2 separate regions of the Homo sapiens genome follow, and region 2 is linked to region 1. Evidence: fine-mapped expression QTL. A gene starts in region 1. The other region holds a variant in brackets. All regions are shown on one strand. Distances are from middle to middle. Region 1 holds the start of ADAM19 (ADAM metallopeptidase domain 19). Region 2 overlaps ADAM19 (ADAM metallopeptidase domain 19).

What was found. PIP is the estimated chance that this variant, and not a neighbour inherited with it, causes the effect. A credible set is the group of variants that fine-mapping cannot tell apart.
Region 2: its variant is the best candidate, but not a certain one, in a credible set for the expression of ADAM19 in thyroid (GTEx, PIP 0.73).

What each region holds. Positions count from the first base shown.
Region 1 is chr5:157,572,985-157,578,357 of GRCh38, forward strand. It overlaps ADAM19 (ADAM metallopeptidase domain 19), which reads right to left and starts at 2,791. Exons shown (of 23, transcript NM_033274.5): 1 at 2,619-2,791. The coding sequence starts at 2,712. It overlaps LOC124901121 (a long non-coding RNA gene), which reads left to right and starts at 1,995. Exons shown (of 2, transcript XR_007059018.1): 1 at 1,995-2,386; 2 at 3,296-3,626. RefSeq lists enhancers at 1,487-2,016, 2,253-2,332, 4,190-4,805, 4,806-5,373 and a silencer at 2,503-2,942.
Region 2 is chr5:157,496,319-157,501,691 of GRCh38, forward strand. ADAM19 (ADAM metallopeptidase domain 19) reads right to left here. Exons shown (of 23, transcript NM_033274.5): 13 at 3,255-3,344; 14 at 576-771. Among named protein-coding and RNA genes, the nearest start is that of NIPAL4, 39 kb to the left of the region's middle. RefSeq lists enhancers at 177-678, 3,683-3,732, 3,793-3,852. The variant T/C (reference allele first, on the strand shown) is at 3,116.

The DNA of each region.
Region 1 (5,373 bases):
GATTGCGCCAGTGCACTCCAGCCTGAGTGACAGAGCAAGACTCCATCTCAGAAATAAAAAAAAGACAAGCATCGCTCTTGCCCTGGTGGCTCTGATAAGTCTATATTATTTTAAACAAAAAGGAATTCTATAATATTTAATGGAGCATTTAATGGAATTAAATGATATCTACGATTGTAAAAAAATAGTGAAAGCAATCTAAAATCTCACCAAAAGAGGAACATAGTACATGTTAAGAAAAGGTCTCCAAAACTTGGAAATAAGGCAAGAGCAAGCAAGATGTCTTCTCAATGTTGTATCAGAGCATTGTTTAACAGACTCACCCATGGATTACTGCATTATCTAGGGGAATGTACCATTGACTTTTTATTTACCATTGATTAAAAGCTACACTCTGTGAAGTTATATAATCTATATATATCTATAGAATTCTGTCTGACAGAGATGTAAGTGATTTCAGCATAGTAAAAAGATAACCTGGCCAGGCACAATGGCTCACGCCTGTAATCCTAGCACTTTAGGAGGCCGAGGCGGGCGGATCACCTGAGGTCAGGAATTTGAGACTAGCCTGGCCAACATGGTGAAACCCCGTCTCTACTAAAAATACAAAAACTAGCCGGGTGTGGTGGCACATGCCAATAAGCCCAGCTACTCAGGAGGCTGAGGCAGGAGAATAGCTTGAACCCAGGAAGCAGAGACTGCAGTGAGCCCAGATCGTGCCACTGCATGCCAGCCTGGGCAACAGATAGAGACTCTGAAAAAAAAAAAAAGAAAGAAAAGAAGGAATGAAGGAAGGAAATTAAAAAAGAAAGATAACCAAGAATTATGGTTTGCTTCATGGGGCATCCACCATTTCTGCATCTGCCCTGGGCCACATGATTTCAACATTCTTTCTCCAATGCTTGTATCACCCCTTTCTAATGCTCCCTGAATCAGCTTTACTCTCCTGTTTGCTACCTCATTAATGAGTTGAATAAATCTTGGCCACATTTGTATGAGTCGTGTTTTTAACTTTTGAAAACTTTGTATAGAGTCATTAAAATCATGTTTTACAGAGAATTTGATGATGTGGAAAACGCTCATGGTGTGAAGTGAAAAACGCAAGACACGAAACTGTACTTATGGGTATGGTTCCAATTTTATCAATATATATCCATAGGAACACACAAAGAATGTGGAGGGGAAAAAAAACAAAATATCAACAGCAACTGTGGATTTGGGGGTTGCAGATCATTTTCTTTTACACTTTTCGTTATTTCCCAGATATTCTACAGCAAGTGTTCTCCAAGGACTCAAAACTCAGAGAAGGCGCCTGTGCTAGGAGCAGTAACTAGCTTTCCTTGTCTTTCTTCATGCTTTTCTCCTGCACTAAGCACTGACACAGGCCTGGTGCTACCCTAGAACCTCCTCTGTGCCTCAGTTTCCCCTTCGGAACAACAGCTCAAAGGGCGGTTCCTTTGAGCCCTTTGGGAGGACCGCCCGACCTCGGCCCCTGGAAGTTCCGAACTGTCGGAAGAGCTCTCAGCCTCTGGGTTTGAGGCGGCCCGGGGGTCCAGCCAGCCCACCCTCGCTCCGCCGGTGCTCGCTCTATTTGAAAACGCTGACTGTTGGTCCCCCAAGCAGCAGTCTGGAGTCAGCCCAGCCCGTCTGCAGCGGTGGAGCCAGGGCTAAGCCTTCTCCGGTCATAATGAGAGAACCCGGGCACCGCCCCCCGGGACCAAGCCTTCCGCGAAATCTGCTTATAGCCCCCGAGGGATGGAGCCGGGGAGGGGATTGGTGTCTGGGAAACTAGTCCTGAGAAACACGGACATCACCCGGCATCTTAGCTGGAAACATCGAGTCAGACCCCTTCGCTTCACAGAAGGGGAAACTGAGGACCAAAGAAGGCGGCCGTCGGGTTGGCGTGGAAAGAGAGCCCTGGTTTCCAGTGCCACCGCGGACCTCAACCCGTGGCGTGGCCTTGGGCAAGTCCTTTCCCTTTTGTGGGCCTCGGTTTCCCCATCTGTGAAATGGGTGCGTTTGACTTGGCCTTCAGTAGGGCTCCTGCCAGCTCGGGGATCCGAAGTGTGTGGCTGCAGATACCCAGCGAGCCATCCCCTAGCCAAGGCTACCACAGTCTGCCGCGGGCATTTTATGTCCTACCCCACCAGTGTGGCAGGCACCGAGCCTGGTCCCAGGAAGCCGCTCCCAGGCCACACGGGCAGGGCGCTCGGGATGCTCGGCGTTGGCGAGTGCAGCGGGCGGTAGAGAGAAAGACAGAGAGAGAGGCGGAGCGGACACGAGGGACCGTGAGAAAACGGAGGAGGATAAGCCCCGAGAACGGCGGAAAGAGAAGCCAAAAGCAGAAAAACAGAGGAAGGAGAAGGCGAGAAGGGAAGGCTAGCCAGTGAGCGGACCGGCTGTTTTCTGGCTGCGCCGGGTTTCCCCGACCTCTGCCACCTCCCAGGGCGCAGAACGTGGGAACAAAGCCCGGGCTCCCAGGCTGGGGACGGCGGGGGCGCAGGCCCCGCGGAGTTGCGGGAGGCGCAGGGGTCGCGGTCCCAGCGCTCCGGACCCGCAAGGCTACTCCCAGGTCTCCGGGCCACCCAGCCTCCATCCCCCCGCGCCTGGCCACTTACTTGTCCATCCAGGCTCCCGCGCCGCCCGCGGCCGGAGGGGCTGCAGGGCAAACGCCAGCAAGCAGAGCCGGGCGGCGCCTGCGCCCCCTGGCATGGTGGCGGCGGCCCTTAGCGCTCGGCGCTCACACGCCCTCAGCCATACCTGCCCACTGCCCGGCGGTGGAGGCGCGTCTGGAACCCCCCGGCTCGCCCCGCGCCTCCCCACCCGGCTCCCAGCCCTCTGCCGAGACGCTCCGCCTCCAGCCCCGCGGGCCTCCGCCAGGGGATGGAGGAGGGGAGGCTCCAGCCCGGAGGGGGCTGGAGGGAGGGGCCGGGGAGGAGCTGGCGAGACTCGGGGGAGCGGGGCTGGCTCAGGTGAGGGAGACCGCGGGGAAGGGAGAATCCGAGCCCCCCAGGAGGAGGGATTTGTGGTGGACGCGGCCTGTAGAGGGTCGGGGACTCGGGCTTCTAGGAGTTAAACTGGACCCCTCTCCGCACAGCGGCCCGTTTACTGTCCCGCACTGTGCCAGACGCCTTGGGTGACACTCAGAGGTGATTCACCCAGCGCCGTCCCCCGGGGGCCGCCACTCTCGGAGACAGGCTCAGAAAGAGTTAACCCAACCGCCAGGCACAAAGAACTAAGTGCTATATGGACTTCTTTTTTTTTTTTTTTTTTTTTTTTTTTTTTTTTTTTTAAGCAGGACACAAATCCAGGAGCCATTCCTTCTGCCTGGGAGGAGGGAGTGATGAAGACCAGAGGAATCCCAGAGGAGAAGCCATCTGAGATCGGGAGGAGGAGAAATGGAACATCAGGCGGAGGAAACAGCCCAGACAATCGCACTGGGACGTGAAAACCCTTGGGCTGCATGCGGGGAGAAAACCAGAATTGGGGATGGTTAGGGTTTTGGAGGGAAACACAGGGACATGTGACCAAAAATAATAATAACTACTGTTACTTATTGAGGACTTTCTATGTACTAGAATAAGAAAATCATGATAGCTAAGACTGATAAAACGCTAAGTGTCAAACGCTGTCTTCAGCACTTTACACATATTCACTTATTTAATTAATCGGAGAAAATAACTTTTATGAGCCAGGGACTCTGCATACATTATCTCTTTTCATTAGCCCAGTAATCCCATGGGGTAGGTACTAGTACTATCCCTGTTTTAGAAATGAGGAAATCAAACCTGAGAGGCTAAACCACTTGCCCAAGATTACACAGCTAATGTCAGTGCCTAGATTCAAACCCACATCCGTATAACTCCAGAGCCTGATGCAACACACCTTATTTTCCAGGTGGAGAAACTGATAATGAGAGAGAAATGACTTGCCTAAGATCCCTCAGCAAGTTTTAGCAAAGCCTCGTTGTAGAATCCCAGCCTCAAACCTCGTCCATCTGTTCCTTTTTCTGAGCCTCTTTAGTCAAACCCAGGTTGACTAGAGAAGTGCTAAGTGTTGGAGAGGGCGAGGCACTCCTGAAGATGATGGGTAGGTAGGTCTATCAAACCCTACTCATGGGCACCCATGAGGGAAATCAAATAAGTGGTTCTGGCCATTAATGTCGTTTGGGACTCCGTTAGTCTCCAGCTGCTGTAAAATTCGTATCTTTCTGTGAACCCGAAATATCTGAGATAGGTCTCAGTCAATTTAGAAGGTTAATTTTGCCAAGCTTAAGAACGTGCTCATGACACAGCCTCAGGAGGTCCCAACATGTGCCCAGGGTGGTGGGGGTGTAGCCTCCTTTTATATATTTTGGGGAGACATGAGACATCAATCAATATGTGTAGGATGTACATTGCTTCCGGTCCGGTAAGGCAAGACAACTCCAAGCTGCAGAAAGGGTGGTGCTTCCAGGTTATAAGTAGATAAGAAACAGAAGAGGTTACATTCTTTTGAGTCCTTGATCAACCTTCCACTGAATACACAATTTAGTCTAGCTCAGTGAATCTACATTTTTACATAAACAATAGGGCAGAAGAAGCAATCAGATATGCATTTGTTTCCGGTGAGCCTCAGAGGGATGGCTTTAAATTCTGTCTGTCCTTTGTCCACAAGGAATTTCCTTGTGTGAAAATTGTGAGGAAGGTATGTAGCTGTTTCTCTTTGTAGCTATCTTATTTAAGAATAGGATGGTGGCCTGGCATTGTGGCTTAGGCCTGTAATCCCAGCACTTTGGGAGGCCAAGGCGGGCAGATCACCTGAGGTCAGGAATTCGAGACCAGTCTGACCAATGTGGCGAAACCCTGTCTCTACTAAAAATACAAAAAAAATTAGCCAGGCGTGGTGGCACACCTGTAATCCCAGCTACTCAGGAGGCTGAGGCAGGAGATCGCTTAAACCTCGGAAGGGGAGGTTGCAGTGAGCCAAGATCACGCCACTGCACTCCAGCCTGGGCGACAGAGTGAGACTCTATTTCAAAAAAAAAAAAAAAAAGAAGAAAAGAATAAAATGGGGGACAGGTTTGCCTGACATTGTTCCCAGCTTGACTTTTTCCTTGGCTTAGTGATTTGGGAGTCCTAAGATTTATTTTCCTTTCACACTTCTCGCGTGCAGAATATATCCACCCCATCCCAGCAGCCCAAATGTCTTCACTCATTCCAGCATTAATTCCAAGTCTGAAGTGTCATCTAAATTTCATCTGTATTAGATATGGGTGAGACTTGAAGTTTGTTTCATCCTGAGGCAAAATTCCTCTCAGCTTCCAAATACAATGTGGTGGGAAAGGCATAGGATAGACGTGCTGATTCCAAAAGAGAGATACTGAAAAGAACA
Region 2 (5,373 bases), 77 kb before region 1:
TTGTTGTTGCTATGGCTAACAATGGTGCAGTAAACATCATAGTAAATATATCCTCACATACATGTGCAAGTGTTAGCTGCATTTCTAAGTATATCTCCAAATTGCTTTCCATAGTGGTTATATCTACCTGTTTCTTCACACCCTCCACAACACTATATCATTATTATTGTTGTTATATTATTATTATCTTAACTTTCAGTCTTTGCAATCTGATATATGAAAAATCTCACCTCATCATAATTATACTTTGCTTTCCCTTAATATGACTGAGATTAAACGTCTTTTCATAGCTTAAGGGCCATTTGCATTTGCTTCTCTGTCTCCATCCTCTGCTCATTTTTCTTTTGGATTACTCTTATTCAATTGTCCACTCTGAGAAATAAAAGCATCAAGGGACTGGGAAGGAACACTGTCCTCTGGTTCTCCCTGAACATCTACCCTGAGTCAAGGGGATGAAAGAGGTAGTATCTAGAGGTGCCATTTGAAGCCAAGATTCCAAACTACCCTGAGGGCCAGGGGAGGCTGGCTGGGAAGTGGTGGGCTGGGGAGAGCCGTGCTCCCCAGGAGAGCCTTACCGGGTCCCCACAGCTGCTGGCACTGCTCCTGGTAGGTGAGGCACATGCCGTTGTAGCAGTAGGCCTGGCCGCCCTCACAGGGGGTACCATCCATCTGGTAGAAGTTGGTAGGGCAGTGGGGAGACTTGCCCGTACAGAACTCCGGGAGGTCACACTGCCTGGCCTGCTCGCGGCACAGGGTCCCAGGAGCCAACAGCTGAGCCAAGGAATGAGAGGAAAACACAGTCAATCTCCTCCCCACCCTCAACCCTGTTGCCCAAGGGCTCATAAGGATCACTCTCATAGAACAGAATTTTCCATTACCATGATTTCACAGCACTTTTTACATGACCTCATTAGCCCAAACCACCTTCAGCCTTCTCATGTGAATACTGACAGAATTTCAAGCTGTTTTCACAAATGCTAACTCACTTTCTCTTCATAGAAGTCTTAAGAAAGAGGCAAGAAATAATACCTATACAACAATTTACAGTTTCCTACATGCTTTAGTAATAGCAGCTACTTTTATGCAGCTCCCACTTAAGTGTCCAGTACAAATATGACTTCACTTAGTTTTCATGACAGTCCTGTGTGATATAATTATCCCTTCTGCAGATGATAAAATCTGTAGGCTTAAAGAGGTTAGACGATGCATCCAAAGACTCATAGTAAGTGGCAGAGGAGCCAGGCCCACTAATACACACACACACACACACACACACACACAAAACTAGCATTCACATAACATCTGTGAGTTTACAAAGCACCTCAGCAATAATATATCCCCACTATGGGGCCAGGCACTGGGCTGAGTGTGTGACATACACGTATCTCGTGGGATCCTCACAGCTTCCATGGGATAGATACTGCTATTTGTCCCACTTTGCAGATCAATAAGTTGATCAACAGCACACCTGGGGCAAAGGGCGAAGAGTCTTACAGCCTCCCTGGGTAGTCGGTGTTACTAATACTCTTTCCATTTTACAGATAAAGAACCTAGGCTCAGAGAGTTAATAGGTTGCCCCAAATCACACAACCAGGGTTTGAAGTCAGTCTTGGACACCAGGGAATCCTTTCTGAGGCTCAAACGGAAATTCTTGTGTGGAGTGAAGGGGTCCACTCCATGCTTATGCTTAGGCCTTGGGCCAAGACTGGAAGAACTTGACCCAGCACAGCCTCCCAGGGGGACGCACAGCCAAACCAGATGCCGTGCACATTCCGAGAGCCAGGCAAGGAAACCAGTGACTGAGAACAGACCCCCTCCCCTGCTCCTGGGCCACTCCTCCCACCCACAGGGTCCTTCCAGGAGAAGGCAGACAGGCTTCTCCACCGGCCACTCTCAGGCCAAGACTGGGCCAGCTGAGCAGCTTGCTGAGAGTGGATGCCCAGTCGCAAGTGTGGGCATGGGTGGTGTATGCAGGAGGAGGCTGCAGGACACACCTCTGCCATCCAGAGGCAGGTGGAGGCAAAGAGGACCTGCCCCACAGCCAGCCTGCCTGGGCACACATCCCAGCTCCTTAACCGGCAGCGGGGCCTTGGGCACCTGCTGTGTAACCTGTGTGTGCTCACTCACCCACAACTCAGGATAATAACCCACTAATGGGTGATTAAACGTGAGTTAGAACTAAGTATGTGAATGGTATCTGGCCCCTAACGAGCACTCAGCAAGTGCTAGGCAGAAGCCCAGGCCCACAGTTCCTGCCTAAAATGATGGGGCCAGATGGGGTTCAGGCTTTTCAGATTTAGAAAGCAGATATTGTAATACATAGGTCCATATGTACATGTGTGTACATATATAATTACACATGTGTGTATGTATATATATATATATATATATATGGATATGGATAATTACATATGTCCGCATATATAACTACATATGTATATTACATAACCCCCCAGCAAGGCTGGGGATAACACCTTCTGATCAAACATATTAATATTTCTGTAATGCAATATAAATATTCACTTTAGGAGTGATTTTTTTTTAAAAAGACTATAATTCATCTCATGTCAATTCAGGTCAAGTTTTGCCACCAAATGTGTTTACATTTTTTTTCAGCTTTTAGAACTCCCTTAATTTCAGAATTGTGGAAGAGAGATTGTGGTTCTACGGTAACACTAGCAGCAACAGACAATTTATCTCTCACATCAATATTAGGAATGTGGGCACCAGAGTCAGGGAAAGCTGGATTCAGTCCCTTCCTGACTGCCTGATTCCAGATAAACCTCTTATCCCCTATAAGCTCTAGTTTCCACATCTTAAAATAAGGATAGTCACATATATTTTATGGGGTTTTTGTGAGGAGAGAATGAGATAACGTACATAAAATTCCCAGCACAGTGCCTGGCATCTACTAAGAGGTCCATTAATGTCAATACAAATGATGATAATTATTATTGTTTATGAGCTCAATAAAATCAAGCCCACTCTCTCTGGATACTTCTTTAAAAAAGAAAAAAAAAAGTACCATTTCCAAAGAAGCGCCACCCTCCTCTGGGATGATCTGAATTCAGTGAGGCCCAGTATAGGAATAGTAAATTTTATTCAAGGCACCTTT[T/C]CCGCTCTGTGTTTCTGAAACTCTGTTGCCATCACAGCCCCAGGATGGAGGCAAATCCCCAGCCATCCACCCCAGCAGAGCAGTCCTGTGGTCCCACTGTCAGGCCAGGGCCCAAGGCGTGGAGAAAAGGGCCACTTACCTTACACTGGTGGCAGCAGGAGCCGTGAGCACACTCCGCCCCCGGCCTCAGGGTACAATTAGAGGCATTGCAGCAGGGGTTGTTACATTCCTGGGGAGGCAGTGGGGTGGGTGTGAGTGGGGGAGGGCCTTCACCACCCCCAACATTTTCCCCACCCTTGCCCACACACCCCTGGAACCCCAGCTCTCTAGCAACTATCTCTTTTTTTTTTTTTTTTTTTTTGAGAGGGAGTCTCGATCTGTCACCCAGGCTGGAGTGCAGTGATGCAATATCTCGGGTCACTGCAACCTCTGCTTCCTGGTTTCAAGCGATTCTCCCGCCTCAGCCTCCGAAGTAACTCAGACCACAGGCACACCCCACCACACCTGGCTAATTTTTGTATTTTTAATAGCGATTGGGTTTCGTCATGTTGGCCAGGCTGGTTTCAAACTTCTGACCTCAAGTGATCCACCTGCCTCGGCCTCCCAAAGTGCTGGGATTATAGGCATGAACCACCGCACCTGGCCTGGAAACTTTTGACCTCAAAAATCATGTGACAGCTTCGTCACTAAGCTAATGTGTACTTGTCACAAGAACCATATATATGCACAATCATTAGTAACATGACTTGGACACAGCTACATCTTTTTTTGAGACAGTCTGCAACCTTCTCCTCCTAGGTTCAAGCAATTCTCATGCCACAGCCTCCCAAGTAGCTGGGACCACAGGCACACACCACCATGCCCCGCTAGGACACAGCTACATTTTGAGTATGAATATTTTTCAAGGCATTTTCTACACACATACATATATATTTATACTTACTTTACAAAATCATAGTATCCACAGTGTTTTTTTACTTAATATAACATGCGTATTTCTCCCTGTAACCATGTAGTCTTCTAAAATGGACTTTTTAGCAGAGTATATGGAAATTTTATGTTTTGTTTTTCTAATCCCCAGTAGAACATCCAGACACCCTGTCTTTCATGGGTGCCCTCCTGCCCCCAACCCTCCTAGGCTTTCTTATCTCATGAAAAGGGGCTGCCGGTGCAAGAGTCTGCTGGAACAACCTCTCCAAACAGTTTATGTCAACTCCTGGGTCTGTTTCCTTAGATTTTTTTCTCCATCTGCTTCTCTTCCTAAGCCCTTCCTGGCCTGGACCTTTCTGGAACAGAAGATCTCCATGGGTTCCTTGCTCTCCCCCAGCCTGAGATTTTTAAAAGATTATGAGGCGTTCCAGTGACCCTGAGCGTCCTCATCACACTCTTACAGTATTAACAGGCCAATCCATCAGCCATTGATGAAAAGTGTACGGGGCTCCACAGATCTCTCCACCACAGCCTTATGAGGCAGCCTTGACCCCATTCCACAGACAGGGATGCTGTGGCTCAGGCAAGTCCAGTAGCTGGCCGAGGGACACACCTGCTGAATTCAAGTCAGGTCTGCCTGAGGCCTACCTCATGTTTATCAACCTTATACCCCTAACTGTCCAGGGCTCTAGCATATTGGAGAGCCACATCCCATCCCCTGACCACAGACACCTGTCCACCTGTCTCCCCTAAGAGAAGGAATAGAACACTTTCCTCCCATTATTCTCCCACCATGTTGGGCTCCAGGAAGACCTGTATTCCTGCCTTCCTAATGTACCATATTTCTTCCCACGAAGGCACAGGCTCCCCTTCCACCTGAAATGTGCCTTCCCTCCTGCGTGCCTCACTAACTCCTAATGCAGCCTTCAGATATGGGCTCCAGGTCACCTCCCACACAAGCAAGGAGGTTCCCCCTCACATTATATATGTTCAGAGCACTGTGTCATTTGTCTTCCTAGCACTTGCCATGGACTGTACATATATTCTTTTGCAATTATTTCAATATGTGTTTCTCCCACTAGACTATCAGCTCCCCAAGGACAGGAACTATGTCATTTTTGCCACTCATCCTAACCCTAGGACCAGACACAGTAGCCCACACTCAGTGTGCCTGTTGAATGAGCAACTGCTCAGAACCTAAGCCAACTGGCCATGCCCACTCTCAGGCCATTCCTCAACCCCAGTGGCCCTCCATGTTCATACCACTCCCTCCTTTCTGATGGGTCTGTGTTGATCTCTCTGGGCTCATGGTGGTGGGGGTGGCATCC